3 linked regions of the Homo sapiens genome follow. The protein of the gene in region 1 purifies or fractionates together with the protein of each later gene. This does not show direct contact. Each region holds a gene or a part of one and is shown in the gene's direction. Other genes may lie near its edges. The genes, in order: STX17, VPS39 and VPS41.

Region 1 (10,502 bases):
ATTTCTTTTTGTATGTCTGGCTCTTCTAAAATACAAATTCCTTGAGAGAATGTACTCTGTGTTGATTACTTTTTATCTCTGGCACCCTAACACAATACTCAGTGGGTGCTCAGAAAATGTAAGTGGTAGGTGTTTTGAGCTTGAAGTGAAGGGAAGATAGTAGAACTTCAGATCTTTTGTTTCCATTTCTACTGTAACTATCCTACAGCAGATCACCGTCATGTTACACTGGATATATTGGAAAGCCTTCAGACTGTTTTTTTGTTTTTGTTTTTATGTTATTGTTTTTGTTTTTTTTTTTTTTTTGAGACAGGGTCTCGCTCTGTTGCCCAGGCTGGAGTCAGTGGAGTGATCTTGGCTCACTGCAACCTCTGCCTCCCAGGTTCTAGTAATTCTTCTGCCTCAGCCTCCTGAGTAGCTGGGATTACAGGTGTGTGCCACCATGCCGGCTAATTTTTTGTGTTTTAGTAGAGATGGGGTTTCGCCGTGTTGCCCAGGCTGATCTCGAACTCCTGAGCTCAGGTGGTTTTTTTACTCTCTAATTTTGTCACCTTCCAACTGCATCCTTAATGTGTTTCTTACACGGTGGCTATAGTTTTCTCTGTAAATCTAAAATCTGATTATGGCACCTTCCCAGTAGTCTCCAACTATTTTTAATAGTAACATATTGATCTTTTGTGAAAAGCAAAACTGTTTAACATAGTTTACAAATGCCATGAATAATCTCAAAGTAGATTTCCAGCCTTAGACTTTGCTTTTCTCCTCATCACAGTCAGCTATACTGAACATTTTTCAGTCCCTAAGCGTATGCACATACTGTTCTCTCTGACCTGAATACTCTTTGCTTCTCCTTCCACCCCTGCACCAGTTCACCTGTGTAGTAATTTCTGTTCACCCTCAGGCTTCAGCTTCAGAGCCTTCTCTGACCACTCTCCCTTCCACAAGTCTAGGTTAAATACCTCTCATCTGTGCCCGTGTAGCACTCTATACTTACCAGTATTACAGTTCTTATTAGACTATACTGACTGAACTTGACTATTAATATGTCTGTATCATGCATTTTATGGTAAGATCTGTTAACAATAGCAGCAGCAGTAACTAATTTATTGAGCACTTGTACTTTATATATAACCCAGGTACTGTGCAAAGTAAATATCACCTTATTTTACAAATGAGAAAAACCAGCCAAAGAGATGAAATACCCAAGGCAAACAGTTTATAAATAGCCAAATCAGAATTCTAACCCAAGTCTTTCTGACTAGGCCCAGGCTCCTAACCACTACACTATGTTGCCTCCTCCGAACTGTTTTTATGGTTTGCCATTGTGTCTGCAGCACCTCAGCACACTGATCAGCAGGTAGTAGGCATTTAATAAATGTCAACTCAATGAATGAATGATTGGTAAAACCAATATGAGGAAATAAAGACTTGAAGGTAGATTTTAAAGTGTGAATTAATTCATCATCATAGCAGTGTTTAATGGGGAAAGTCCTACTGGGTTGACAACTTTTTAAAACTCAAAAGAAGTAGAAGCAATGGAGTCATGGGCCAGAAGATTGAGGAGAAGAGTAGTGACAAAAAAGACACATATGGTAATGTTTGGTGACAATCTTATTATTACCAATAGTGACTGATTATCATTAATAAAAATATATTACTTCCCTGCTTTCAACACCTTCTGTATCTGGTATTTACATTGAAATAGCCAAATAGAAGTTTAAGGATGAAAAATATTAAACCTATTTATATAGGTACGTCTCCTTGGAACATTGGCCAAGTAGAATAGTTTTCTTTTGGTGCTTCTTCCACATTTAGCCCTAGTTATTCAGATTGGATAGATAGTATTTGTAGCCATTTTTTAAATGACTGTGTAGATTAAAAAAATATGTGTGTAAGCTTGGTGTCATGGCTTACGCCTGTAATTCTAGCATTTTGGGAAGCTGAGGCAGGAGGATCAGTTGAGGCCGGGAGTTCAAGACCAGCCTGGGCAACATAGCAAGACTGTGTGTCAATTAAAAACAAAAAAAAAAATTTTAGAAAAAAAAAATGTGTTAACTAATCTGGGGAACAAGCTACCCTATGGATAAATCTTTTTTTTTTTTTTTTTTTTGAGGCAGGATCTTGCTCTGTTCACCTAGGCTGGAGTGCAGCGGCGTGATCACTGCTCACTGCAACCTCGACCTCCCAGGCTGAAGTGATCCCCCCACCTCAGCCTCCCAAGTAGCTGGGACTACAGGTGTGTGCCACTACACCTGGCTAACTTTTTAATTTCTTTGTAGAGACGAGGTCTCACTCTGTTGCCCAGACGGGTCTTGAACTCCTGGGCCCAGGCAGTCCTCCCGCCTCAGCCTGCCAAAGTGCTGAGATTATAGGTGTGAGCCACTGCACCCAGCCAAACAATTCTATTTTTGTAGAATAATCAATTTCCTTTTAGCCTAAATTTAATTAGACACCATTTAACGTGGCATTTGTTTTATGAAATCAATTTATGCTGTCTCTTTTCTAACAAAGCAAATAAACTCTAAACATGGGGTTATTATGTTCATCCAGGAGCATTTCATACTACTGAAGCTGAAGCTAGTTCTCAGAGTTTGACTCAGATATATGCCTTACCTGAAATTCCTCAAGATCAAAATGCTGCAGAATCGTGGGAAACCTTAGAAGCGGTATGTTAAAAAATGTTTTCTTTTTGGTAGTTGTGAGGCATAAAAGTAACTTCCTCTCCCTTTCTTTTAAAGGACTTAATTGAACTTAGCCAACTGGTCACTGACTTCTCTCTCCTAGTGAATGTAAGTATATAACTGTTTTGGATGCAGAATTGTTGGATTATTAGAATGAGAAGCTTTTATAATCACTAGGCTTTTAATTAGAATTTTAATAGAACTTATAATTTTTAAGACTGGTATTAAGCCATAGATAGAAGTTTAACTGTTCTCAAATTCCAGATTAATTCAAGAAACTTTTATTAAGCACTTGTTATATACAAGCAGTGTGTTAGATGCTTAACATTGAGAGTGTGGTCAGGTTGGATATAGAAATAAATGAAGCCCATTCTCTGCCTTTGAAGATTCTTGTTTTTTGTGTTTTTTTTTTTTGAGACGGAGTCTCACTCTGTCGCCCAGGCTGGAATGCAGTGGCACAGTCTTGGCTCACTGCAACCTCCGCCTCCCAGATTCAAGCGATTTGCCTCCCTCAGCCTCCTGAGTAGCTGGGATTACAGGCACGTGCCACCATGCCCAGCTAGTTTTTGTATTTTTAGTGAAGACGGGGTTTCACCATGTTGGTCAGGCTGGTCTCAAACTCCTGACCTCATGATCCACCCGCCTCAGCCTCCCAAAGTTCTGGGATTACAGGCATGAGCCACCACGCCCTGCTGCCTTTGAGCATTCTACAGTGAGTGGAGATAGGCCTGGACCCCAGAAACTGAGCTTTCAAGCATGATGGCTAAATGCAAAAGCAAGAATGAAGAGAGGTATTATCAGCTCCAAGGAAAAGCATTTAATTCCAAAGGAAGGAGGCAGGAGTCATAAGGTAGAAAGAAGCATTAAGGATAGCTTCACACAGGTAGACAGTATTTGTATGAGCCTTGAAAAATGAGTAAATATCCACTGGGGGAAGTTATGGAGTATATTTGAGAAGCTGAACAAAGACATGGAGTAGAGAAGTGTATGGCCTGTTCCAGATTGACAAGTACTGCAGTATAACCAAAGCATAAGGTACCATGGGCAAGCAAGGAGGGTGAGGGCCAGATTGTGATGGCTTTGAATGCCATGCTAAAGAATTTGAACTTTACTTTGTGGGCATTAGAAAGCCTAATACTGATTCTTGAGCAGGTTAGAGTCATGCAATTCAGTCTGTGCTTCAGAAAGATCACTGTTGGCTTTGTGAATAATGGCCTAAGAGAGGAGGAGGTCATGGAAAGGAAGACTGGTTAGGAATCAATTGCAAGAGTTCACCTGGAGCAATGGCAATACCAGTGTAAAGGTAAAGGACAGCTGAGAGATATTTCTGGGGGACTTAACAGAAATTGGAGGAAGATGGAGCCAAAGATAAGGAACATTGTCTTTATTCTGCATAATTGGGTGTCAGTGATACTGTTAACATAGATTAGGAAGCACAAAGTCAATTTGTTGGGAAAGATAGATTTTCCACCATTTTTCTAAATTGTTCTTTTTGTCTTTCTCAGGAGTTATGGGAAGGTAGGATGTATGAATACGTGTGTATGTATATTTATGTATGTGTGTCCACACAGGCATACCTGTTTCTGCTTGCAGTTCTGTCTAGGTTTAGTTCTTTGTTTCTGATCTAACCATGATTTTGGGGTTATCTTTGAGTTACGGTTTCCCTGAGATCTAATTTTAAATGAGAAGTTCCTAGATCACACAATCAGAATTGGAATGAGAAAGGACTCAAGAGGCCAACTAATCTAATCCCTCTACTCTTGCCCCAATTTCTAAAATAAATGGTCTTTTAGCCTCTTTTGGAACAATTACAGCACAAGGATATTGATACTTAAACTATTGCATTTGGAGGGTCTAACTCTTAGAAGGGTTAGAGTTAAAAGTGTCTGCCCTATAATAACTTCTTTTTGGCATTTTTGGCCTCTAAAGCTACGTACTGAACAAATTTTGCCTTCTTTCCATATGAAAGTCTTTCAAGGTTTTGAAACCATCATCTTTCCTCACTCTATCCCACCCCACCATATTTTCTTCTCTTCAGAACCCTTGCTTCTTTTGCATTCCTTCTACAATATAATTTCTAGGCTTCTCAATACTGGCTTCTTACTATGCTTATGTTCCATATTCTGAATATTTTCTTGAAATGTGTTACCTAAAATTGAATGCAGTAAATTGTTTGAATTGCTTCTGGATGCCTCTAAGTTAGAAGAAGCAAAATATTTGAAGTTTCTGGATTAGGTATCTGTACAATATTAATATACTCGCAAACAGAAGGAAATAATAGAACAAGAATCCCAAAATATCTGTTGTTTCAGAATCAACATTTATTCAACTATTGTAAACTAATAATCTCTGAATCCAGTGCAGTTTGTAAAACCTATACATGTATGGTTACACAAATATATACACTTGCCAAAAGTCATTGGTCTGTACACATAAAATGTGTTTTAATATATGTAAATTATACCTCAATAAAGCTGATTTTAAAAAACAAACTACACATGTACAAAGTTCTTACTCAGTACAAACACATTTCTTTTCTACTGGGATAGGCACATAAAAGAAATATTAAAGGTCTGTGACCATAAGATAGTTACATGTTTGATTATATTATGTAAGCAGCTCATAACCTCTAATCTAAGGGAGATTTGTGTAGGAAAACTCTGGCTGTAGCCACAGCTCTATACAAATGTCCTGTTTGTAATAATCTGTTTAAGTACATGAGACAGAATGCTAATAAGCAAAAGCTCAAAGGAGAACCCCTGATTATTATTCCCAGGGTGACTAAGTTCTCATGACCACATGGCCAAGGATTCACAGAAGCTCTATTTAGGCACAGAATGACCTAGGAACATAACCAGAGTGACCACATCCTCTCATTATCATCACATGGACATGATAGTGTCTAGACAAATTAACCATGTATTTAAGGAACACTTTCTATCTGCGTAGCACTGTGCTAAGCTTAATGAGGAATAGAAAAAAGCATTTAAAAAACTTACAAGATAGTAATAGTGGTTGCACAATATTGTGAAGTTACTTATTGCCACTAAATTGTACACTTCAAAATGGTTAAAATGGTAAATTTATGTTATATTTATTTTACCACTATAAAAAGAACTTACAAAGCCATTGACAGATCAAGGTATAGTACAATAAATGTTAATAAATTAATATCTACTAGGTACCCTGCTCTATTTTTCTTCAGCCTTTGTTGTTCAAGTGCCCTCTTCTCTCCCTATAACTTTGTAACTAGCCCTATTTCTAGTCAAGGAGAATTTAAAGAACCCTGGGCCAGTAGTTCAGTAACAACTCACCCTTGCTGCTAGTCTGTTTTGACTTCTGCCTTTTGCCTTATTCCCTGTCGTTTTTGTAATCCAGTTTTACTCTGGAAACATAAAAACTGGTTGCAATGGATTAGATCAGATTCCTTCATTTATTACCTATGTGACCTTCAGGATGTTATTTGACAACAATGAGCTTTATAACACTGATGGGAGGACTAAATGAGGTAATGTGTATTATTAAGTACTTCCCATTCTGTTCCCTTCCACTGACCCCAACTGCATTCCCACTTTTGTCCTTCCTTTATTTTCATTCCTTGTTTGGCTCCTTGCAAAAATTCTACTTTTTCCACCACTATTATCCTTAGGCATTTTAGTACTGGAATTCCTTCAGTCCCTTTCCAACTGCTGAATCCTCTGTTAGCAACATCCTACTTATCTACTCTGCTTATTGCTTACTCGAAGCCAATATAATCACTTATTTTGCCTATATATCATAGTATTTATAAGTTTGTTTCTGGGCCTTTTTGTGTATATGATTGCATATGATTAAGGAGTATATAGAATATATCATAGGAGTTTAGAACCAGAATAGCTCAATGTGAACAGGATTGGTCAAGATCTAAGATTAGAACTTGGCCTTGAAGGCTGGCTGGAATTTAGAGAGGAATAAATGGACGTACCTGGAGTTTTGGTATTACCCTCTTAAATAAACTCGTAGCTTTCCAAGAACCTTAAACTTTACAACTACTATCAGAACTCTCTATGGAAGACCACTGTTAATGATATAAATGGATTTGGGGGTTAATTTTTGAATGTATTATTATTGCTTGACATAGAGGATGCTAGGCCTACAAGTGTCCCCAACAGGCATTCAAGAACAAAACAGTTCATTGGTTTTGAATTTATATTCCCAAATTGCATTCTGCTTGACAAGTATAATAAATCACAGTTTATACAGAAACTTAGGTACTCCTATAGCTGTTCGTCAAGATTTGTTATGTTCAGGCCAATAGGGGGACTTAATTCAATGTTCTTTAAAATGAAATCCGTAGACATATTCTTAGAGTCATTTGAGAATTTTCTTTTTCTGTAAAAGGAGGTCAGTATATTACTCTAGCTTGAGAAACACTGCAGTGTAATGAGCTAAACACTTAAATATGGTTTAGCTCATTGTTAAAGGAATGCTGAGAACATATATGGGGTGCCAAACTATAAAATGGCAGGTATGGAATTTGAAGATTGTCAAATGTGGGAGGCCTAAGCAGATGAAAATAAACATGAGCAAATCAGAAGCAAAACCTCAGGGGAGATTGATAGATAGAGGTTAGGAGGCTCCTGCACCACCATTAATGTTTAGAGCTTGATTTCACAGGCTGGGGCAGGGTTGTATATGTATCTTTTGGTCCCACAAAAAGAGCCAAGGACATAGTGGACAGGTAGTGACCCAATTCAGCTCTGTATGGAGTCTGGTTTGGCATTCTGCTGATGGTAATTGACAACTCTGTGACAATAGTTTGCTGCCTAACTGTAACCTTTGTGGGGGTCAGTGAGTCCTCCTTACTCAAGAAGCAGAATTTGAAGATATGGGCAAAGTTTGAAGTTGCAAACCAAGCAAAATACGGACAAGAGAAAGGCAGACGTGCACAATCGAGGGGTGATTATTGATCCCAGGATAGGGGCTGTCTGCCCTCTGCCTTATTCCCACACCCCAGCCCCATATCTTAGCATGCTTTCTGATGGCATGAATAAATACTTATAGATGTGGGCTACTCCCCAGGGTGGGATGGGCCTCATCAAATGCTGGTGATTGCAATGATGGGGAACTTTGTAGTTCAAATAATTAGTGATCTCAGGATTGGTTTTTTGCCTGTGGTTGCTTCTTCAGTTATTCCAAATGATTTTTATGAAAAAATATTTAAATTATTTTAAAATTTTGCTTTAATTTTTAAAAAGTCATAGAAGTACAATATCCAACCCTTTTTAAAGGAAGGAACATTAGAAAGTATTTCCCTGAGGCTTTACGATTACACTTGGGGTATAGAAATGGCAATAATCCTGGCAGGCTCCTCCCTCTTGCTGGAATTATTTTGGGGCTGAAGGAAGGGAGACACTGACTATTTTTCCTCTACCTTTCAACTCATCAACATATGACGGCTGATGGTAGAGTTTTAAGCCTGTGATTTATCTGCTAGCATAGACTGTTTCAGGCAAGAGTGGAAAGTGTTGGGGGTGTCCTAAATAGAAACAATGATAGGGTGTCAGAAATCTAGACAAGTTGTATATTATTAGTGCTGGAACTTTTTCTTCTATGGGTCAGAAAAAGAAAGCTGACTTAAATAAGTTTTGCTATTGAGGAAAATAAAAATTGAATGATTGAATGAATGCTAAAAGATACCTGAAGTTTTAGTGTCCTAGAATTTTCAAGCACCGAAAGAAAAAGTTAAATATATTTTTTGATAGAGAGATGAGAGTTAACACTTCCTTGGGGAAATTAGGATAAATTTTTCTATTTTTCCCCCCTCACACTTTGCAAACACATTTTATCCCCACTTCAACTCTATGAAGGTATAAGTATCACTATTCTTACTTGATAAATGAGAATACCAACACCTAGAGAGCTTGAGTAATTTGTCTAAGAGCACATAGTGGCGTTTGCTGAGATTTGAACACAGATTATCTGACTAAAGGTGGTGCCCTTGATCTGAGCACATATAATAGTGGTTCTTAAAGTGTGAGAATTGTGGACTGGCAGCATCAGCATCACCTGGGAGCTTACTAGCTCAGGCTTCATCCCAGGCCTACTGGATCAGAAACTCCGGGGATTAGGCCCAGCAATCTGTGTTTTAAGAAGCCTCCAGGTGGAAGACTGAGAACCATTGTTAAAGTTGTCTCTCACAGAGACATTCAAAGGAAAACTGATAAGGGACTTTCTTAGGCATTGTTTTAGAGATGTCAAGATAGTGGTGGAGAATATTGGAATGAAGGGATACCACAATGGCGAAGATAGACATATTTTGTGTATGAGAAGGGAAGTAATATCAGTAATGCTAAGAGGAAACAAACATGGGGAAAAAGTAGCTGTGTGGTTTGGGCTTCATGTTTTCAAATGAAATAATGGTTGGAATTAGAAAAGTGTTGTATGTGTCTGCCTCAATATAAATGAATAGGCCAATTATATAAGGGCAATCAAACACTTCAGGATTAAAGTTGAATTATTTCACCCTCATTGCAGGTGGCATCTATCTAGGATCAAAGAGAGATTCTCTTTTTTCTGCACATTAAAAAAACAAAACCAAAATAGTCTGTAAACTGTGATGGTTGATTATATGTTGGCTTATACATTTGTTGTTTATACATTTGTGATAGTTGGTTTATACATTTGCTAAATTTCATCATACTATACCATTAAAAGCAGTACTTGTTATATGTAAATTCTATCTAAATAAAGTTGAATTAAAAATGGGAATGTGTTCCTACAGCAAGTAATGAGTTCGTGTCACTGGAGGTATCTGAGCAGAGGTTCAGTAACCACTTGTCAGGAATGTTACAGTAGGGCTTCGCACATCAGAGAGGAGATTGACCTGATGACCTCAACATTCCTTCTACCCAGAGATTCCATGAGTCACAGTTGCTGTTGTGCCAGCACAGGTGTTGCCATTTTATGTAGAATGCTTTATTAATATATTTGATCTGAAACATTTTAAACTGTCATGATTTTAAAATGTATTAAGATACACAGGTGTAAAGCACAGAACAGTGATTTCATTCACTGTTCCCTACTGCATATTACAAATGGAAAGATCTCATAATAGATCAAACCGTATTGTAGTCTTGTTCCTGAAACATAACAATTTGTATTTATTGGACCAAGGGCATTTTACTCCTAAGGTAAATGTGCCTGATTTAAACTGAATCCTCAAAGAAGGTAAGTTAGGGAGGTATTTTGGGGTTTGATTTTGTTGGGTTTTTTTTTTCCATCAAACCCAACATGACATGTAAATGCTTATTTGGATTTTTTTTTTCTGGAAAGTAGATTCATTTGGAGAATAATATGTTTGTATGTTTGAGTGAATTTTAGCGTGAGATGCTTTTTGCTGTAAAGTTGCCACCCTTTTATTACCTAATAATTAAGACCCCCCCCTTTTTTTTATGAAAGTTAATTTGTCCTTTCGACATGGCTTATCAGATGCTATTAATGAACCACTATTAAGATGGCAAGGCTGCAGTACCCAGGGCCCTGATTACAGGAATTAAAATAGTGTGTGTTGGCTCCCTGCTGCTCCCCAGCAGGACCGCTCACTCATAATTCCTTTGCATCTAGTCTCAGCAGGAGAAGATTGACAGCATTGCAGACCATGTCAACAGTGCTGCTGTGAATGTTGAAGAGGGAACCAAAAACTTAGGGAAGGTAAGATTCTGCTCCTGCTGACAAATCAATGGTACTCTGGCTCCCAGGAATCTCTAGTATTAACCCAATTGATCTGCTCTCTTCAATGTTGAGGGAACCAGCAATTAAGGAAATAAGGAAGAAATGACA
Region 2 (10,502 bases), on another chromosome or scaffold:
TGTGTGCTCTGAAATACAAATGAAGGTTTCAGGGATAACGGTGAACATTGTGCTCTTATCCGTGAGTGACTGGTTTGATACCAGCCGCCAAAGACCAAGGAAATCATTTCTAACTTTCCTCTTAATGTTTAGGTCCTAGAAATCAAGGACCATAAAAAGATGATTCAGATCCCTTAATCAGATCTTATACTGAGCTAGATAGGTAACCATGATGGGCCTTATGGAATCTTGGTGGTGTCTGATACCATGTGCGTCAGCTGTTCACAGTGTCACCGAGTCATCCTTGCAGAGTTCTTGATGACTTCTTCTGTAGGGTTCTTTCACGAAGAATTTTCATGTTAATGTGCACCCTTCCTCCTTTAGCAGCTCTGGGTCTCTTTAAAATCATACCTCCACAGTAAGCAGTTCTAGTCCTTTGGGTTAAGAGGAGAATCCTACTTCCTCCAGACATCTCAAGAAAACCAATTTCTGTCATTAAATGCTCTCATTAAACATTTAAATAGAGGAGGAGAAAAAGTTTTTAAATGAAAGACCTGACACTGCATGAAAGGATTAATTCCCCCATTGCTTCATCAGATATACTTATTAGGTGGCTACACGGGCCATTCTCTTTGCTTGGGACAGTAATACAATGATGAATAAGAAACAGTGCCTGTGCTCCTAGGACACACACTGGGGGACAAATACACGTGAACAGATTATAATACTAGAGACATATGCTGCCTATTATTGCAACATGGATGAGGGGGTACCCAACTCAGCTAAGGACATATGTTTCTGAAAGGGATTAATGCAGCTGTGGCTACACTTGACTTAGCTCGTCAGAATCCTTGACTCTGATCTCCTGTTGGACCATTAGCACATAGTGCTCCTAGACTCTCACCAACTCCACTTTGTCACAGTAAAGATTCCTTGCACCTGTGGTTTTCAGGAACACAGTTTTGAAACAATAGGTAGCTTTTGGCCTTCCTTGATCACCCACCGAACAGGAGAAATGCTCTTTGGTTCCTAAGGTGCTTAGGTACATATTAGGTTACAAGAGGCCATTAACTGCCTCCTGCTTCAAAAGTGCTTTATTTCCAGATTTGAGCAGCAGTAATTATTGCTCTTTCTAGTCATTACCCCTTTTTAACTACATTGTGCCTTTGGATGGAAAGTTCGTCCAGGAACTTCCAGAGGCAGGTCACACAGGGCCAAATAGTATTTGAGGTGTAAATGTCTTAGAGACAACATACTCTGTCTCCTGGGAAATAGAAATCAGGAGAGAACATGATGAGGATGATTTCTTTCTAAACTCCAAAGTTGTATAATCCTGCTGCCTTTTCAGCATCTTCATTTGGATGTCCAGTAGCATAGCCAAAACCGTTCTTGATTCCTCTCCCCTCAAACATGCCTGTCCTCCTGTATCTTACGTCTCAGCAAGTGGCATTTCTATTTACCTCTTTGACTAAAGCCAAAAGCTTTGGAATCGTTCTTGACTTCTTTCATTCTGTTTTACACTGTATCCCATCTATCAGCAAATCTTGTGTGTTCTACCCCTAGAATAAATCTGAAATCCAGTCATTTCTCTCTATCTTGATGATTACTACTCTTGAAGGCACCATCATCTGTCACCTGAATTACTGTAGTAGTCTTCTCATTGATCACCCTATATTTGCCAGTGTGCCATTTTCAGTTTTTTGTCTACCAGGTAGAGTGAAACTTTGAAAACCTAAATCTGATTCCATCCTCTACTCAAAACCCTCTCATGGTATCACATCACAACTAGAATAAGTTCCAAAGTTTTCACCCTGTCTGGCAACATCTGACATGATCAGGCCCTGATTTCTTCCCTGTCTTCTGTGTACTTACCTCTCACTCCTTTCTGGTACCAGTCCCACACAGCCTTCTTTGTTCCATCAATGCACAAAGCACATACCCACCTCAGGGCCTTTACATTTGCTGTTTCCTTGGCCTGGCACTCACTTGCCTTTGTATATATGGTTCATTCCTCATTTCACTCAGTTCTCTGCTGAAATGTCACCCAAATCAGCAAAACCTTCCCTGTGTATCCTATATAAAAGAGATTGCCACATCCACCAATGTGCTGTTTTCTTAGCCTTATCTTCTAATCATGGGTCACCATCTACTGTTATTTTATATATTTAATTATTATTGCCTCTCTCACTCCACATTAGAATATAAGTTCCCTCAGGGCAGTATCTTTGTTTTCTGCATTGCTATATCTGCAGTACCTAAAACATTTCCTGACTCAATGGGTATTCATTAAATATATATTTAATGAATAATGTTAATATGAATAGTAATAGCTTGCAGTTGTTAAATGCTAATCTGTATTAGGCTTTTATAAAATAAGACTCCATTTTACAGAAGAAAGACCTAAGGCTTAGAAAATTTAAGAAATTTTTCCAAGGTCACATGTCCTGTAAATCATGTCTGCTTCTAGAGCCTGGTTCTCAAACTTGAATGTATATTCAAAGCCTGTAAAAAATGCAGACTTCACATGTATATATGAGTATCTGTATGTCTATATATACATACATACCTATATTTTCCAGAGAAACAATGGAAAGATAAGTCAAAAATTACTAAAATGATGCCCATAGCAGAAGGGAGAAGAGAGGATAAAATGGACAATGATAGAAACTAGACTTTTCGTCGTTTTAGCTTTGGAACTACATGAATGTTTCATAAAAACAAATAAAATTTAATTTAATTTTATTTTATTTTATTTTATTTCATTATTATTTTTTGAGACTGAGTCTCGCTCTGTCGCCCAGGCTGAAGTGCAGTGGTGCAATCTCAGCTCACTGCAACCTCTGCCTCCCAGGTACAAGCCACTGTCGTGCCTCAGCCTCCCGAGTAGTTAGGATTACTGCCACCCACCACCATACCTGGCTTATTTTTGTAGTTTTAGTAGAGACGGGGTTTCGTCATGTTGGCCAGGCTGGTCTCAAACGCCTGACCTGAGGTGATCCGCCCACCTCGGCCTCCCAAAGTGCTGGGATTACAGGCGTGAGCCACTTTGCCCAGCCAACAAGATTAAATTTTAAAATGTAAATTTCAGGGTACCACTTCAAAGCCATTGAATCTGAATCTCCATGTGCAGGGCCCAGGAATGTGCATTTTTAATAAGTCCAGGTGATTCTAATGCAGCTAATTGGGGGCTTATGCCCAGATGAGAAGTACTGTTATTTGCCATGTTACCCAACGAAGGGAAGTGACTACTATCTTACTTATCTTTGTGGTCCCTGCAGTGGCCAGCATTGGGCCAGAAATGGAATTTATTACATGAAGTTGGACTGCATTGCACTGTTGGAAGGAGCTCCATTAGGGTAATTATGAGCAATAGGGCCTAGCCCTCCTTCTCAGGAGGAATTAAGTCCAACCTTGTGGCTCAGGGTTAGGCCGTCAGGAGTTTTTTAGGGCTGATACTGCTTTGCTTATGTGTGCGTTTTGTGTTTGCTTAGTATGTCTCACTTTCTGTTGTGTGTTACTGTATTGAGTCTCAGAAGGCACTGTCCATCCCATGCTGCGCGTGCTCTGCAGGCTTGTCATCCTCTGTGTTGTGCATGCACAGCTTTGTTAAATAACGTGTCCTAGAGAGTGGAGGACCCAACATGGGACAGGTCCTCTGGCTAATGGCACATGTAATCAATCAGGTTGATTTAAAAGTTTACAGAGAATTTAATCCATCGGATTGATTCCCTTTTATGACCAGTAGAATAGACATTTTATTTTTTTAATTAATTTTTTTTTTGGAGGCAGAATTTCACACTTGTCACCCAGGCTGGAGTGCAATGGCGCACAATCTCCACTCACTGCAACCTCCGCCGCCAGTGTTCAAGTGGTTCTCCTGTCTCAGCCTCCCTAGTACCTGGGATTACAGGTGCTCACCAGCACACCTGGCTAATTTTTTTTTTTTTTTTGAGACAGAGTCCTGCCCCGTCACCCAGGCTGGAGTGCAGTGGTACGATCTCAGCTCACTGCAGCCTCTCCCTCCGGGGTTCATGCAGTTCTCTTGCCTCAGTCTCCTGAGTAGCTGGGATTACAGGCACACACACCACCATGCCTGGCTAATTTTTTTTGTATTTTTAGTAGAGATGGGTTTCCACTGTGTTGGCCAGACTGGTCTTGAACTCCTGACCTCAGGTGATCTGCCCGCCTTGGCCTTCCAAAGTGCTGGGATTACAGGCATGAGCCAACCACACTCGGCCTAATTTTTATATTTTTTAGTAGAGACGGGGTTTCACCATGTTGGCCAGGCTAGTCTCAAACTCCTGACCTCCAGTGATTCGCCCACTTCGGCCTCCGTGCCCGGCCCCTAGACATTTGACTTTTTAAAATGTTTTGTCATGTCTTAGTTTGGGTTCACAAGAAAAAAAAAAAGTAAATTAAAAAATCTATTGGCAAGAAACATTTCAATAAAAATGGAAAATAGACTCTTGAATGTCATGTTTAGGAATTTGACTTCATATTTTGGTAGTGTAGCTTCACAGGATTTTTTAAGCCCCAGTGTGACAGCATCAGAGATCTGCTCTAAGATAACTGACAGCAAATGCGAGAGAATGCATGGAGTGAATGAGACCAGTTGAAGGTGTCACAGGGGTCCCCAGAGAGACTCTATAGGAGGAGGCTGTCATGAGGTACCATTACAGGTAGAATTGATAGACCCTGGCCGACTTGGGAGGAAGCTGAGGCTATTAAAAAAGATAAAGAAAAGCAGGAACTGGCAGGGATTTGGGGGACAGAGTGGAGAGAGAAGGATGGGGAAGATGATGAACATTATGTTGGCCTTTTGTTTTGGTTGTAGATTTTTATGTATGTTATGAGTGGATTTTTAAAAAATTTCCACTTCATTTTATTTATATCTGAAATATCAGTGGGTGGCCTAAAAATCAACTTTAATATTGCTAAATTGCTTGATATCATGATATCTATAAAGTTCTAAATATAGTATCTTTTACAAAACAAATATTGCAAAATGAATTCTTTTATTTTTTCATGTTCTGCTGCAGCATAAATCTCCAGCCTTCATTAGAGCTGCTGTTATTTCTGATTTCAACATTTTTTTTGTGTGTGACCTGCCTTTCCTTTAAGACCCCAAATCAAAGAAAATAGAATCACTCTGTTTTTCTGGATGACTAAGAACATCATCCTGGAGAAATACTATTGATCCTTTGGATAAGGAATGTAGGTGCTGACCTGTTTTTATAAATATAACTACTGCCATTCAGACAACCTTTGGCTGACACCCATTTTTTTTGACATGGGTGCCTTAGTAAGTACATCACAGCATGTGGTTGGGAATCAAGACAAATTGGGGTTGGGATCCCAACTCTGCTGCTTGCCACATGTGTGACTCTGGAAAAGTTATATATTCCCTAGGCCTCAACTTCCTCATCTATAAAATGGGGATTTGAAAAAAGGACTTACTTCAAGGGATAGTTGTGAGGATTAGTGAAATAACAGATGCGTTTAGCATTTCCTGGAACACAATACATGCTCAATAAAAGTTATCTATTTGTACCATTATCCAAGATTTTATTTTACAGAGGTCAAGAATCAAGAGAGTTTATGAAAGGAATGAGTGACCTTTATGTTATCAAAAAGCTAAGGAAGTATCTGTACATGCTTACCTTCCTTGAATGATGTAATATGGGTCTGTCAGGGTAATTATTTAAACTCTTTCTGAGCCTCTTTTTACCTAGACCAGTGCCTCCCAAAATGTGGTCCTTGAACCACCAGCATCAGCATCATCTGGGAAGTTGTTAGAAATGAAAATTCCTGGGCCTACTTTTAAACCTACTAAATCAGATGCTCCGGGGTAGAGCCTAGCATTCTGTATTTTAACAAACTCTCAAATAATTGTGATACACTAAAGTTTAAGAACCACTAGCCTAGACCATCTTTTAAAATGTACAATTTGGCTGGGCACAGTCGCTCACCCCTGTAATCCCAACACTTTGGGAAGCTGAAGGGGCATTGCTTGCGGTCAAGAGTTGGAGACCAGATTGGGCAATATTGTGAGCCCTCATCTCTATAAACATTTTTTAAAAAATAGCTGAACGTGGTGGTGCATGCCTGTATTTCTCGCCACTCAGGAGGCTGAGGTGGGAGGATCACTTGAGCTAGGGAGGTGGAGGCTGCAATGAGCCATGATCACACCACTGCTCTCTAGCCTGGGCAACAGAGTAGAACCCTATCTTAAAAAAATAAAAGTTAAAAAAAAGTGTACAATTAAATGGTTTTTAGTACATTCACAGAGTTATGCAACTATCAGCACAATAAATTTTAGAACATATTCATCACTTTCAGAAGAAACTCAGTACCCATTAGTATTTACTTTCTATTTTCCCCCAAGCCCACCAGCCCTGGGCAACCGCTAATCTTTCTACCTCTGTGGATTTGCCTACTCTGGACATTTCATATAAATGGAATCACGTGGCCTTTTGTCTGGCTTCCTTCAGTTAGCATCATGTTTTTAGGTTCATCTGTGTTGTAGCATATATCCATACTTCCTTTCTTTTCATTGTTAGCTAATATTCCGTTATATAGACATGCCACATTTTGTTTATCCGTTCATCAGTTGGTGGACATTTGGTTTGTTTCCATCTTTTAGCTATTACAGATAATACTGCTGTGAACATTTGTGTACAAGTTTTTGTGTAGAATATGTTTTCATTTCTGTTGGGTGTGTAACCAGGAGTGGAATTGCTGGGTCCCAGGGTAACTCTGTTTAGCCTTTTGAGGAGCTGCTAGACTTTTCCAAAGTGGCTCTCCCATTTTACATTCCTGCCAGCAGTGTATGAGGATTCTAATTTCTTTATATTCTCATCAACACTTGTTATTAAATATTTTCTACTAGACTATCTTTTGAGATAATGAATTCTGTAAGCTTATTATGTTACGTCATTTATTTTCCTGAAAGTAAAAGCATTTAAAGGATGCCTCTTAGCTATTATTGCTGAGGTTGGATACCTGGTTTCACATTTGTACTTCCATTTTGTGATTTTATAAACTTTCATCATATTCTTTTTAGCAGAATTTAAAAATATATATCTGAAGATATATATCTTAATAAAAGTATATATAACAAAAAATAAAAATCATAATAATTTAATCTTAAAAATACAAAGCCCTTCTATCTTTTTTATTAGTTTAACATTAAAACAATTGAGCCAGGACATTTTTATCCTCTGATATGTCTAGCCTAGTAATTATTCAATAAATGTGTTTTTAAATGGTTGATTTTCAAACATGAGTATAAACATTTCTTAGCTTTGCAAAACACCTCCTATCAAAAGCAACTCATTTTCTTGACACATTGATTTCTGATTACAAGCCCCAGCTAAAAAAATAGGGTTATACTCAAGCTGATTGACCTTTCTCAAAGCTGGTTTTTTTTTGTTTTTGTTTTTGTTTTGTTTTGTTTTTCCAGAGGAATGGCTTCTTGTGGGAACCAAACAAGGACATCTTCTTCTCTATAGGATTCGGAAGGACGTTGGTAAGTGCACATTGCTCATGCAAAAAAATAAGTTTTAATAGTCAGCTAGTATACAACTGTGAAATCAGTTATTCCTGGACCATTAAAAGAGAGATTGAAGGTTAGAGGGAGCACGGTGGGAAAATGGGGAGAAGACTTGAGAATGCCTAGGGTTTTTCTCCTCCAAATTGTATTGCCCTACCTGCATTTGGGAGGTGAGGATGAATTGCTGGTTTACTTATTACTGAATTACTTATTACTGGTAGTGAGTCTCTAAGAAAAGAGGAGGTGGTTGTTTTCCTCCTCTTTTCTTTGAGACTCACTACCAATAATAAGAAATACTACTAATGGGCATAAGCTTCCTGTATATATGGTGTGGTGGTAGGAAAAAAAATTAGGCAACATCGATTTAAAATATCTTGTTGGCTTATGAGGGGTAGAACAAGAAGAGAGGACCAGGGTTTGCCTTCATGTGCACTTCCCCCTGGCTGCGTGACCGTGAGCAAGTTCTTTCCAACATCAGTTTTCTATAAACTCTCTGCCCCACAAAGTTGTTGGGGTGGATGCAATAATAGGCTCGAAGAAACTGTGAAAACTAAAGTTCTAATCAAATGTGACTGTCAGTAATGTAGAGTAATAACTAAAGTATTTGAAATGTATTCTGTTAAAGAGTGTTTTTTATTGGGGCAGAAAGTACCTCACTGCCCTTCCTTGTTTTCGTTTCTGTGCTCTCTTTATGGAGAATAGATGTGTTTAGGTATTATGCCCTGGAGCCACTCTACAGAAATCTGCAGTTAATTTCATACCCTTCAATATAATATATATTTCTCTGGTAAATAGCTTAAGAGATAGCTTAAGATAAATAGAGCTCTCTTGTGGAACCTGGAGCAAGGGTAACACTGGGGGAAAAAGCACCTTACTAGTGCACTCGGGAAAGAGAAGATATCCTGGTCAGTTTCTGCAGCAGGGTAAGAAAAGAAACCAGAGAACAAAATAGATAATTTATTTCATTTCTAAGTTTTTCAACTGTCCTCTAAATCAGGGTCAGCAAACTTGTTCTGAAAAGGTCCAAAGAATAAATATTTTAGGCTTTGCAGTGTTGTTACTACTTAACTCTGCCTTTGTAACATGAAAGCAGCTGTAGGCAATATGTAATGAATAGGTATGGCTATGTTCCAATAAAACTTTATTTACAAAAACATGCAAAGGCCTCAGTTAGGCCCTGGAGCAGTACATTGTTGATCTTTGTTTTAATGTTTTAAATTTTTAATTCTCATGGCCTGTGAAGTGGCTCATGCCTATAATCCCAGCACTTTGGGAGACTGAAGTAGGAGGAATGATTGAGGCCAGGAGTTCGAGGCCAGCCTGGGCAACATGGCAACACCCTGTCTACAAAAAATTAGCTGGATGTGGTGGCACGTGCTTATAATTCCAGCTGCTCTGGAGGCTGAGGTGAGAGGATCGCTTGAGCCCAGGAGGTTGAGGCTGCAGTGAGCTATGATCACACCATTGCTCTCCAGCCTCAGCAACAGACTTTGTCTCAAAAAAAAATTTCTTTTTTTAGTTCTCGGAGCCAAAATATTTGCGTTCTGTGATATTTGCCTGGTCTATAATTTTAAAATTAAGCTCACATTTTAATTTTAAAGCTAAAAATGCTTATCTTATTCAGCATTCAACAATTGTTTTTTGACTCTCTGCTTTGCTTTCACATGTAAGTGGTGATCAGAAATTGAAAACAAGACTTTATAAATGAAGTCTCAACACAGTATAGACCTGAACTGGTAATATTAGTGTTAATCTGGCTTGGAACCCTGGTGGCGACTATTCCTTGCCCTATGATCATTTTATCATGTCACCTTTGACAAATTAGTTAATGTTCCTGGGCCTTGGTTTCGCCATAGGTAGATTAAATATAGACAATTAGGAAATCAAATTCTGATTTGAAACTTTTCTTCAAGAAATGCCATTTTTCCCTATACTCTTGGTGAACAGTTTAGTTCTGGCCCAGATCTGGCCTGATGTGGGCCAGAAATAGACCTGGGCCCGTGTGAATTAGTTCTAGGGTTAATTTGGTTTCCAGATTTGAGATATTTCAAGCCTAAATAGGTCTTTGGGTAGACTGTCTTTCTGAGGAAAGGGAGGGGATAATAGGGTCAAGAAAAGACTAGGGGTAGGGATCGTAGGCTCTGATCTGATCTGAGTCATTTCCCTGGAGCTCAGTTGAGCCAGTGACATTTTTATCCTCTGATATGTCTAGCCTAGTAATTATTCAATAAATGTGTTTTTAACTGGTTGATTCTAAAATATGAGTATAAACATTCCTCAATAGACATCTCTAGGCTTCATTCTGCTCCTTTATTTTTTGAGACAGGGTCTTGCTGTGTCGCCTAGGCTGGAGTGTAGTGGCGCTATCTTGGCTCACTGCAGCCTCAACCTCCTGGGTTCAAGCCATCCTCCCACCTCAGCCTCCCAGGTAGATGGGACCACAGGCACACACCACTATGCCCAACCCATTTTTGTATCTTTTTTTTTTTAGCATTACTTAGATTTTTTCTTTTTTTTTTTTTAGGTTTTTTTTTCCACTCTTTTTAATTATACTTTAAGTTCTAGGGTACAAGTGCACAACGTGCAGGTTTGTTACATATGTATACATGTGCCATGTTGGTGTGCTGCACCCATTAACTCGTCATTTACGTTAGGTATATCTCCTAATGCTTTCCCTCCCCCCTCCCCCCACCCCACGACAGGCCCCCAGTGTGTGATGTTCCCCTTCCTGTGTCCAAGTGTTCTCATTGTTCAATTCCCACCTATGAGTGAGAACATGCAGTGTTTGGTTTTTTTGTCCTTGCAATAGTTTGCTGAGAATGATGGTTTCCAGCTTCATCCATGTCCCTACAAAGGACATGAACTCATCCTTTTTTATGGCTGCATAGTATTCCATGGTGTATATGTGCCACATTTTCTTAATCCAGTCTATCATTGATGGACATTTGGGTTGGTTCCAAGTCTTTGCTCT
Region 3 (10,502 bases), on another chromosome or scaffold:
TTTCACAGTAGGAAGCCATTGAAATCTGATGACGGTAGTAGGGCTTTATTATACCATTTTTTTAAAGCTAAAAGTGTATAAAAATGGAGAAAATAGGGCTGCGTGCGGTGGCTCATGCCTGTAATCCCAGCACTTCGGGAGGCTGAGGCGGGTGGATCACCTGAGGTCAGGAGTTCGAGACCAGACGGGCCAACATGGTGAAACCCCGTCACTACTAAAAATACAAAAAAATTAGTCAGGCATGGTGGTGGGCGCCTGTAATCCCAGCTACTCGGGAGGCTGAGGCAGGAGAATCACTTGAACCCAGGAGGCAGAGGTTGCAGTGAGCCGAGATTGTGCCATTGCACTCCAGCCTGGGTGACAAGAGGGAGACTCCATCTCAAAAACAAACAACAACAACAAAAAAACCCCCAAAAATGGAGAAAATAACTGTTCTATTGAACTTTTTAGAAAACTTGGCATACATTTTTTTCTTGGTATCATGTATCATAAATGCCAGTAATCTCCAGGATTAGCAACACAAAACTAAATGTCTCCACATTATCTTTCGTGAGTGTTGTTTCTTTGGTGATTGCTCCCCTCCCCATTTATTTTCAGAAGAACCAAAATAGTGACATCTGCACTGAGTTATTGTGGTATAAAACAGCTCAGAGGATCTGAAACTAAAACCACTTTTTAGGTATGAATGAAAATTTTTTTATAAGTCACTGGGAAATTCTTGCTTTTGCCTAATATGGTAAAGGTAGTTGTCAAAAGTAACTACATATATATTTTATAGTTTACAGAAAAAATGAATACCCTGCATTCTGCCTGGAAATCTTCTAACCAGCAGTTTTGCTTAGCTCCAAAACGATTTATAGTTGACCTTCATATTCACAGATGCCCAACAGTATTTGTCCATATCTTTCTTATGAATAACATTCTGCTTGAAGTCTGGTTGTTTGTGTATTTGTCTTATCTCTCCTAGAGATTGCTGAGTCCTCAAGAATAAGAACAAGAACTTACTCATGTCTGTATCTTCCACAGGGCTAGTGCTTTATAGGTACTAAGTGTTTAGTAAAGTGTTTAAATGAATTTATTAGGGGGAAAATAGCATTTCAAATTGTCAAATTGTATATTAGTAGGATTTGCGTGAAATTATTTTATCTTACTTGCACCTTTTTTAAGTTATTAATTCAGATGTAATGTGGATTACATCTATACTATAATGTAGGTTACATTCTATACTTTCTTTACTCTTGCCTGCTCCCCAGGTACCCTTTGATCTTCCTAATCAACCAACCTGGACCCTGGTCCATTAAAGTATTTCCACGATTAGACCATCTATTTCTTAATCAAGTAGGAGAGTTTCTACTTTGAATTCTCCTTCTGCATTTTAGAAATTAGGGGAATTCTGTCCTTATTGTAGATCACTTATGGATTATTAGATGTCATATTTGTCATGTATATCCCCATGTGATTATGTTACAATAAAAATCAAATCAATACAAATTTGAGTGCTTCGATTTTCTTGCCTGTAACTGGGAATTTTACTCTCTAAAACTTTTGTGAGTATGAAGTATGTTAAAACTTTTGTGAATATAAAGTATGTTAAAGTGGCTAGGTTGAAATGGTTGTATAAATAAGACAGAGGTTAATCATCGAAACCTGGACTTGGCTTACGTATGCACAATTCTCTTTTCTTACAGTTTGGCTAAGATAGATATTTTAAAGGCAGTGTTACTACTAACTAAAGGAAAAACAAAACCCAAACAAGAAGTTTTAAAAGTATAGAATCAGACAGATTTTAGAGGGTGCACTCTTTCCCATCATGTAACTAAAATGTAGTCACAGATTAGTTTTGCTGGACTAGCGGATTGCTTTGTTAGTTTTTCCACTTATCTTCACCTGAATTGGTCGGCTAGAGGCCACTTCACTAGCTGATTATTAGTAGCCTCCGCCGCGCCCACATTAACACCTTGGAGAGAGGACACTCATCAGATCAGGGGCTTCTGTGTCTCATGCTACTTCCCATTCATGGCTGTGCAGTCCCCTGTTGCCTTTGTTTCTTCTTGATGCCTGGGCCTCCTTATGGTTTTTTTGTTTTTGTTTTTGTTAAAAATGGCTTGTGATTCCAGGCTCTTATTTTAAACCTACTGAATCAGAGTCTGTGCAGATGGAGTGTGTTAGTGGGTATTAGCTAATTCCCCAAACTGAGTTTTGATGATTCTCATGCAAAGGCAGATTTGGGACTGGGTCACCTGGTTACCAAGTTTGCCCTCTTTTCCACGCTGGGGCACACGTCAAGATTTTTCTTCATTTGCAGAATAAGATGAGTGCAGTAGCTGAGCCCAGTAGGCTGAATGGGCTTGGTAACCTGAGTCCTCATCTTTACTACTCAACCAGCCTAGTCCCTGAGTGTCTAAAGCTGGCCACAACTCCTTTGAGGTTTTTTAAATTGAAGCTCTGTGACAACAGGGATATCACATACATACCACACAAAATATTTCCTCCTTCCTGTGCCTATATCAGACAGTGCCTATATCAGAACTCTCTTTCTCATTATGCTCAGCTAGGGCGCATAGTTTGTTGGGAAGACAGAGAAGGTGGCAGTACCTCAGTGAGTGTTCACATGTACCTCCAGGCATAGATGGAGATAGATGATTTCTTGGAGCCTGGTCTCTGCTCTTTTTTTTCCTGCAACACAGACCCAGGTGAGCCCTCCTGCAAAGTTTGGAGTGGCCTTCCTTAGGCCCCAGGCTACCATTTCTCCCCCAAATTCTGTTTTTCTTCCCCAACAGTATGTGGGCACTTACAATTCTGAGGACTTCACAACCCAGGCAAGTCCTGGATCCTCTCTGTCCTGGGCTGACAGTCTTCCTTTTCACCACTCCTGACCTCTGAGGCCAGCTGGGCCAAGCCTTCTCCCAGGCCATTGTCATAGGGTTCTATGCTGATGGGAGGATTAGGGATGGGGGCTGGTTGAAAGCCTGTATGAGAGAAGTCTTCTAGGAGCCCAAGGAATTGTTGGAATTGCTGCATTTGTTGGAAGGTGCTACCTTCCTGCAGTTCCCTTTCTGTAACTGTCCTACAGTTCATAAGCTAATAATTCAGACATGAGTCTGGAGAAAATATGCTTGGTATTGCTCATAAGGGAAAGGCAACATATGGAGGAGGAAGAATTTGTTTTAGATTGGCAGCTTGTCTCATCATCATCACCAGCAACATGTTTTTCCAGTAGGATACTGGGAGACAAAGAAGGCAAAGCCTTTGGGTTTATCCACAGCATATTTAAAATGAGAACTTGTAGGACAAGGCAGTTAATATTAGGTGCTAGCTGAGGGGTACGGGAAGAAACGTAAAAACCAAGCTCTGATATTGAAGAGAGAGTGAATGTCCTCAGGCTGAGTGCCTGGCAACCTCTCCCTGGGGTATCCCTGAGAGACCCACTGAGCCTGTAGAGCATTCCATCAGGATGAGTGCAGGATGGGGCCAGGGGCCTTCTAAATGGAGGGAGTGACATGAGGAAAGTGCAGAGCAGGCAGCACAAACTCAGGCAGGCAGGGGGTGGTGCACATGAGCAGGCGTGCCTTGGTGTCAGAAATTGGGAGTGGTGGGGGTGGTGGAGTGCATTCTGTCCTGGGTGTAACCGCTCAGCTGCAACTGATGGTATGTGGAAGTGTGGATCTTATGTAGACATACAGTCAGGAGTACAGGTTTTTATATGGAAGCTTTTTTAAAAACACCACCTAGGCCAAACAAAACACCTGCAGGCCATATCCAGACCCCAGGCCACTGATTTGCCACTTGTGGCACAGAGATATAAGCAATATCTCGGCGAGGGGTCCTCCAGTGTGGCTGGAGGGTCACAGGTTTGTGGAGAGAGTGGGGAGTGAGGCTAAAGGTCTGTTGGGGGCCAGACTGGGAAGGACTTTGACTACTTTGCTGGGGAATCTGAAAGCTATTCTTCAGGCTGGAGCACTACTGAGGGTTGTTTGAGGAGGGCAGTGGCCGTCTGGTCTGTGCTTTGGGAAGATAATCCTGATGGCAGGTGATGAGTACATTAGAGAGGCCACATGTCAAGGCACAGAAATCACACAGTAAAGCTGTTTGGGTAGGTGGTTGGGCTTAAGGGATTGGTTTGCAAAAGAAAGGTAAAATGAAATGTTTCTGAGTTTAACTGTCAATCCGTTACCCAGAATTGGCTCAGATAGACATTTGTGTCACTGGGTATCTTCCAGCCTATCACTTTTGCTTTGATCAACAGCACTTTATTATAGTAAAATACACATAGCATAAAATTACCATTTTAACCATTAAAAAAGTTGAAAACATTTTTTTTTGTAGAGACAGGATCTTTCTGTGTTGCCCACACTGGTCTCAAATTCCCTGGCCTTAAGCAATCCTCTTGCCTTAGCCTCCCAAAGTGCTGGGATTACAGGTGTGAGCCACCCCCACCTTAACCATTTTTAAGTGTATGATTCAGTGGCATTAAATACACTCACATTGTTGTGCAACCATCACCACTGCTGTAGTTGTGATGTTTGTCCACCTAAAATCTCATGTTCCCCAGTATTAGAGGTGGGAGATCTAATGGGGGCAGATCTCTCACGATGGCTTGGTCCCATCCTTGAAATAGTGAGTTCTCTTTCTATTAGTTCCCAAGAGAGCTGGTTGTTAAAAAGAGCCTGGCACCTCCCCATTGCCCTCTTTTGCTTCCTGTCTTGCCATGTGATCTCTGCATATGCCAGCTACCCTTCAACCTACTGCCATGAGTAGAAGCAGCCTGAGGCCCTCATCAGAAGCAGATGCTGGTGCCGTGCTTCTGGTACAGACTGCAGAACCGTGAGCCAAATAACGCTCTTTTCTTTATAAATTAACCCGCCTTAGTTAGGTATTCCTTTAGAGCAACACAAATGTACTAAGACAACCACTCTGCCTCTCTAGAACTTTTAATCATCACAAACTGAAACTCTGTACCCATTTAACAGTAACTCCCCACTACATCCTCCCTCTGCCTTTGGTAACCTCTGTTTTACTTCTGTGTTATATAAGTGGAATCATGCAATATTTGTCCTTTTGTGTCTTGCTTATTTCACTTTGAAAACAGCATAATTTATAACTTACATTTCAGGATTTGAAGTTAGATTCTTTAAATGAGAGTGTGAAGCTAAAAAAAAAGTTTGAAAACCACTGACTCATTCTCAAATTGTTACCTTTCTCAAAGTTCAGCCTTCTTGGATTTCTTAATGAGGACATTTACTTTACGTCTTCTTTGCCTTTCTCTCTCTAGCATATTAATTAGAGGGCTTGATGAATGAATGAAGCTAAGAAATAACAGACCAGCCTAATTCTTGACATCACTCATGCATTGCTTTGGTAGGATTGTGGAAACAAGTTTTTTTTGAGATCGCCTGTCTGTGTGAGATGTTCGTAGTGGTGCTGAAGGCAAGTCTCAGAGTTTCCTAGAGTAAATGTTCTCCATCAATTCCATAGCCAAAGAAGCTACTCTCAGAGCCCAGTTTTCCCTGAAGATTCAGGTCTCAGATCTTCCTGCCTCACGGTGTCAAATTCTGGCACTGCATGCTTTCTGGTGTGGAGAAAGAGTGTAATTTGATTTTGAGTTTTTGGATTGAAATTGCTGGTTGGAGACTTCTGTTTTTTCTTTTTTAATTTACATACATTTAATGGGTACAGGTGCAATTTTGTTACATATATTGCATAGTGGTGAACTCTGGGATTTTAGTGTCACTGTCACCTGAATAATATATATTGTATCCATTAAATAATTTTCTCATCATCTACCCTTCCCAGTCTCCGTGGTCTGCCATTCTCTACTCTTTGTCCACGTGTACACATTATTTAGCTTCTACTTATAAGTAAGAACATGCATATTTGACTGTTTCTGAGTTGTTTCACTTAAGATAATTTTGTTTTGTTTTGTTTTGTTTTAATCGAGACAGTGTCTTACTCTGTTCCTCAGGCTGGAACGCAGTGACGCAATCACAGCTCACTGCAGCCTTGACCTGCTGGGCTCGAGTGATTCTTCCGGGTTCAAGTGGTCCTCCCAAGTAGCTGGGACTACAGGTGCATGCCACCACACCTAGCTAATTTTCTTTTCATTTTTTCTAGAGATGAGGTTTCACCATGTTGGCCAGTCTGGTCTTGAACTCCTTACCTCAGGTGATCCACCTGCCTCGGCCTCCCAAAATGCTGGGATTACGGGCGTGAGCCACTGTGCCCAGCCCAGATGTTTTTGTTTTAATGAAGAACATAAATGGGGTATTCACCCATTTACCTCATGTGCATACTTGAGTGGATTCTATATGAGGAAAAAAAAATTTCCTTAGGTTTAATGTGATTTTCCTGAAAGAGTACTCAAGTGTCTTTTTAGAACTGTACATACAGGAAATAGGAATCTTAAGTGTGGTTTATTGGCATAGTTATCAAAGCCTTGTATTGCTGATGCTAATAACATAATATTCAGCGACTCACAGAGATGGAAAGGATGTTAGAAGTCATTAAACTCAACCTCTAAGCCTCACTCTTCCAACCCCAGTGGTGTTAGGAAAGTTTATAATGTTGTGGGTGGTGAATGGAACATAATGAGCAGTTTATAATAGATGTTCAGTAAAGAAGTCAGAATAGTGATTGTTAATGTTAAAGTGGACTATGTCCACAAGAGAAGGATCAGTACAGTAAGAGGACTAAAACCAGGAACTGTGATGGTGAGTGCAGAGGAGAAACATTTTAGAAGGTGGAACATGATACATGTCATTAACTCTCTGGACAGCTATCATGTAGTGCAATAATTGTTTTTTTTATGTAGTGCTAAGAACAAAAATGTTACTGTGGATTATTGTAGCTTCAAATGAATAAGAACTTTATGAGACTTGGATTGACATTAAGCTAAACAGGCTGCATTGAGTTACAGAGGAGATTCTAATATTCATTGTGGTTAATGATACAAGTATAATAAAATTCTTAATTACAAGGAACATATCCCCATTTTACCCATGGCCTTTGAAGGCAAGGACTGTGTTGTCCTCCAGGCTGTACTTTGGAAGGTGCCTGCCACCTGTCAGGCTCTTGCTAATTTTTGATGAATGAAATTAAAATGATTTTAAACACTAGATTTACATTTATCCCGCTGTCCAACTTGTATTGAGTAATATATGCATCGATCTTCCTTAAAATGTTCATTTTTTTCTTGAAAATGTATTAGTTATATCTAAAATGTCCTTGCCCCATTTTTTTCTTGTTCTTTGTTTATCTCATGGATTGTTGTAAAGTGCTTACATTCAGTGTCAGCATATTAGTTGTAACCTTTTATTGCTATTGATATCTATAAGTACGTTAAGTAAATCTTCATTTTGCTGACCTCTTTGAGGATGCATGGCATCAGCAGATTCTCTCTTTCACTGGACAGGTGAGAGATTAGCAGGATCAAGTCAATTTTTCCCTTTTTGCTTTGTTTCCTTCAGAGCAGCAAGATTCATTGTCTAGCGAGAGGGAAACTGTGTTAAATGGCAGAATTTGTCTTAGTGGTGATGGTTTAAAGAGTGCATGTAAATTATACAGCTTGTTTACACAGGGTCTGATAGGTACCACTGTAGGAGATTCTTTTAAAAAGCTATTTTAGCAAGACAGTCATTTTAACTCAACCAGATTAATAGCATGATAATTAATAGCACAAGAACTTTTCAGTATAAAAATTGGCTTGTAGATAACATGAGATGGCAGTTTCCTCTTCCCTTCTGAGATTAGTGAGGCTGCTTTGCCAGATGGGTTTCCATTATTAACAAGGGAGAGAGTCTTCCAGGCCCTCAGATGATAAGTTCCTGGGGTAATTTGTTTACCTGTTAACTCTTTGAGGGAGAGCAGCAGGATCTGCCTGCCAGGGTGTGGAGAAGTTGCAGGAGACATGTGAAAGTCAGAGCATGTGGTCCTCTAAAGTATAGTTGTAGATTCTCTTCCAAAAAGGGCAGATGCGTGGTAGTAGGAACATGAGGACTCTTTCCCCTTGCAAATGATTATTCTTTTATCATCTCTTCTGACCATTTTCTTTTTCTATGCTTTATAGGAAACTGGGTCCCTTGAAGAATCTACAGATGAGTCTGAGGTAAGGTGGTGACTCAGGAGCCCTCGGATTTGTAGCTCACCACGTTGTTCTCTTGAGTTGCGCTTCTTTGCTAAATGCAACATTCCCAGGGGCTGAGGGTGTAAAGCAGGGCGATAGGTAACTAAGCCTTGGGGAAGAGCTTTTAATATGCCAGCTATCTTAAAAAAGATTAAATGGATTAGCTTAAAAAATAAGAAAAGGAACAAAAAGTTTTCATCTGAAACAATATTTTAACTTGAAACATGTTGGCAGTTGGAAAATTGATACAAAGTTTTAGAAATTTATCTCAACACTTTAACATCCCCCTCACCTGCTTTTTAAAAATAGCCACTGTAGGTTTTATGATGTTTATTCTTTATTTGTTCTTTTAATGAATGTGACATGTTTGTTGGTATAATTTTTGAATCATTGAAATTGGAGTTTGCTTCTTTTTTTTTTTTTTTTTTGAGACGGAGTCTCGCTCTGTTGCCCAGGCTGGAGTGTAGTGGCTCCATCTCGGCTCACTGCAGGCTCCGTCTCCCAGGTTCACACCATTCTCCTGCCTCAGCCTCCTGAGTAACTGGGACTACAGGCGCCCGCCGCCACGCCCAGCTAATTTTTTGTATTTTTAGTAGAGGCAGGGTTTCACCGTGTTAGCCAGGATGGTCTTGATCTCCTGACCTTGTGATCCACCCGCCTCTGCCTCCCAAAGTGCTGGGATTACAGGCGTGAGCCACCGCGCCCGGCCTGGAGTTTGCTTCTTAAAAAGGGAGCTACTTTAAAAGTTGTTAGGTTATTGTGATAAAGATAGTTTCTTAAGGAGAATAATATATAAGGAAGGAGTTTTTAAAAAATTTATTTTCAAGTCTGCATAAGAAATGTTTAAGCATAATATAAATTTTTTTTTTTTTTTTTTTGAGACAGAGTTTCACTCTTGTCACCTAGGCTAGAGTGCAATGGTGCAGTCTGGGCTCACTATAACCTCTATCTCCTGGGTTCAAGTGATTCTCCAGCCTCAGCCTCCCGAGTAGCTGGGATTACAGGCGCCCACCACCATGCCCAGATAATTTTTGTATTTTTAGTAGAGACAGGGTTTCACCATGTTGGCCAGGCTGCTCTCAAACTCTTGACCTCAGGTGATCCGCCTGCCTTGGCCTCCCAAAGTGCTGGGATTATAGGCATGAGTCACTGCACCTGGCCCAAGCATAATGTAATTGGCTTATCAATTTTATAGATGGACTCATAAGAAGAATTACATTTTTCCTTTTAATATTTCATTTCGCTCAGAGGAATGAAAATGTATCTGTGATAACCTGCTAGAAATACACACTGATATGACTCTAGCCATGATAATCTATTACATTTGGGTTGATACTGCATAAGCTTATGTGAATTTTGTTGCTTTTCCAGGGAAAAGTTGGACTTATGCATATTTCTCTAGAGAACAGATTATATATCAGGGATGTCCAATCTTTTGGCTCCCCGGGTCACATTGGAAGAAGAATTGTCTTGGGCCACACATAAAATACACTAACAATAGCTGATGAGCTAAAAAAAATTGCAGCAGAAAATCAAACAGTGTTTTAAGAAAGTTTATGAATTTGTGTTGAGCTGCATTCAAAGCCATCCTAGGCCATATGTGGCCTGCGGGCCATGGGTTGGACAAGCTTGTTATGTATTATGTCATTGTGTAGTCATGGTTTCTAACATTTTCATTAATAAGGATTTCCATTACTGTGGGGCTTCTGGTAAGGCATTTCTGAGTTTGCTTATAGATAGGGTATATTTGTTAATTTCTCATACAGTATTGAAAAGCATTTTAGGTTACCTTATTTTGGAAATCTCTAATTAACTAAGATTCCAGTGTTCTTAGAATCATTGGTACAGAATCAGACAGTGCTGGAACTCTGTTGAGGAATTTCATTTTGCAGGTGAGGAGGGTGTTGGCAGCCACCTAAATCTAAATCTTTCCACACATGCTCCAAATACTAAACAGCTCAACAAAGAGTAAATAAAAGCACACACAATCTAGGCCTCTAGTATAATTAGCAAATGGGGAGTAATACAAACTTCAGTGCAAGTGGGAAAATAAACATCCAAAGCCAGCAGAGTCGGCTCTGGAGTTGACGCTGGAGCTGACAGTCAGATGGAGACTGGGTAGAAATAAAGAGAGTACAGCTGAGACCCAGCCGAGGCAGAATGCACATAAAAATCATCTTAGTGAGAAGGGGGCCCCATTCTTAGTGGGGAGATCTGAGAACAGATGTGAGACTTGGTGGATTTCGAGAATTTAAAGAAAGGAGCTTGAAAGTGTATAGGGCTTTAGGTGACAAGAGTTGGATGGTGCTGCTTTTGGCAGAGATGGGGGAGGCATCCTTAGCGGCTTGGCAGTGAAAGAAAAGGACAAAGCAGAGGAAATTAA

What was found.
Region 2: the proteins of STX17 (region 1) and VPS39 purify together in Homo sapiens (affinity purification with western blotting; 2 studies listed by BioGRID and IntAct, with this or other methods). This does not show direct contact.
Region 3: the proteins of STX17 (region 1) and VPS41 purify together in Homo sapiens (affinity purification with western blotting; 2 studies listed by BioGRID and IntAct, with this or other methods). This does not show direct contact.

What each region holds. Positions count from the first base shown.
Region 1 is NC_000009.12:99,957,367-99,967,868, forward strand, and holds part of STX17 (syntaxin-17), read left to right. Parts: intron 1-2,550; coding exon 2,551-2,666; intron 2,667-2,738; coding exon 2,739-2,789; intron 2,790-10,286; coding exon 10,287-10,373; intron 10,374-10,502. UniProt on the Homo sapiens protein: SNAREs, soluble N-ethylmaleimide-sensitive factor-attachment protein receptors, are essential proteins for fusion of cellular membranes.
Region 2 is NC_000015.10:42,196,901-42,207,402, reverse strand, and holds part of VPS39 (vam6/Vps39-like protein), read left to right. Parts: intron 1-7,441; coding exon 7,442-7,507; intron 7,508-7,736; exon of another isoform or gene 7,737-7,833; intron 7,834-10,502. UniProt on the Homo sapiens protein: Regulator of TGF-beta/activin signaling, inhibiting SMAD3- and activating SMAD2-dependent transcription.
Region 3 is NC_000007.14:38,895,690-38,906,191, reverse strand, and holds part of VPS41 (vacuolar protein sorting-associated protein 41 homolog), read left to right. Parts: intron 1-8,062; coding exon 8,063-8,101; intron 8,102-10,502. UniProt on the Homo sapiens protein: Plays a role in vesicle-mediated protein trafficking to lysosomal compartments including the endocytic membrane transport and autophagic pathways. Acts as a component of the HOPS endosomal tethering complex.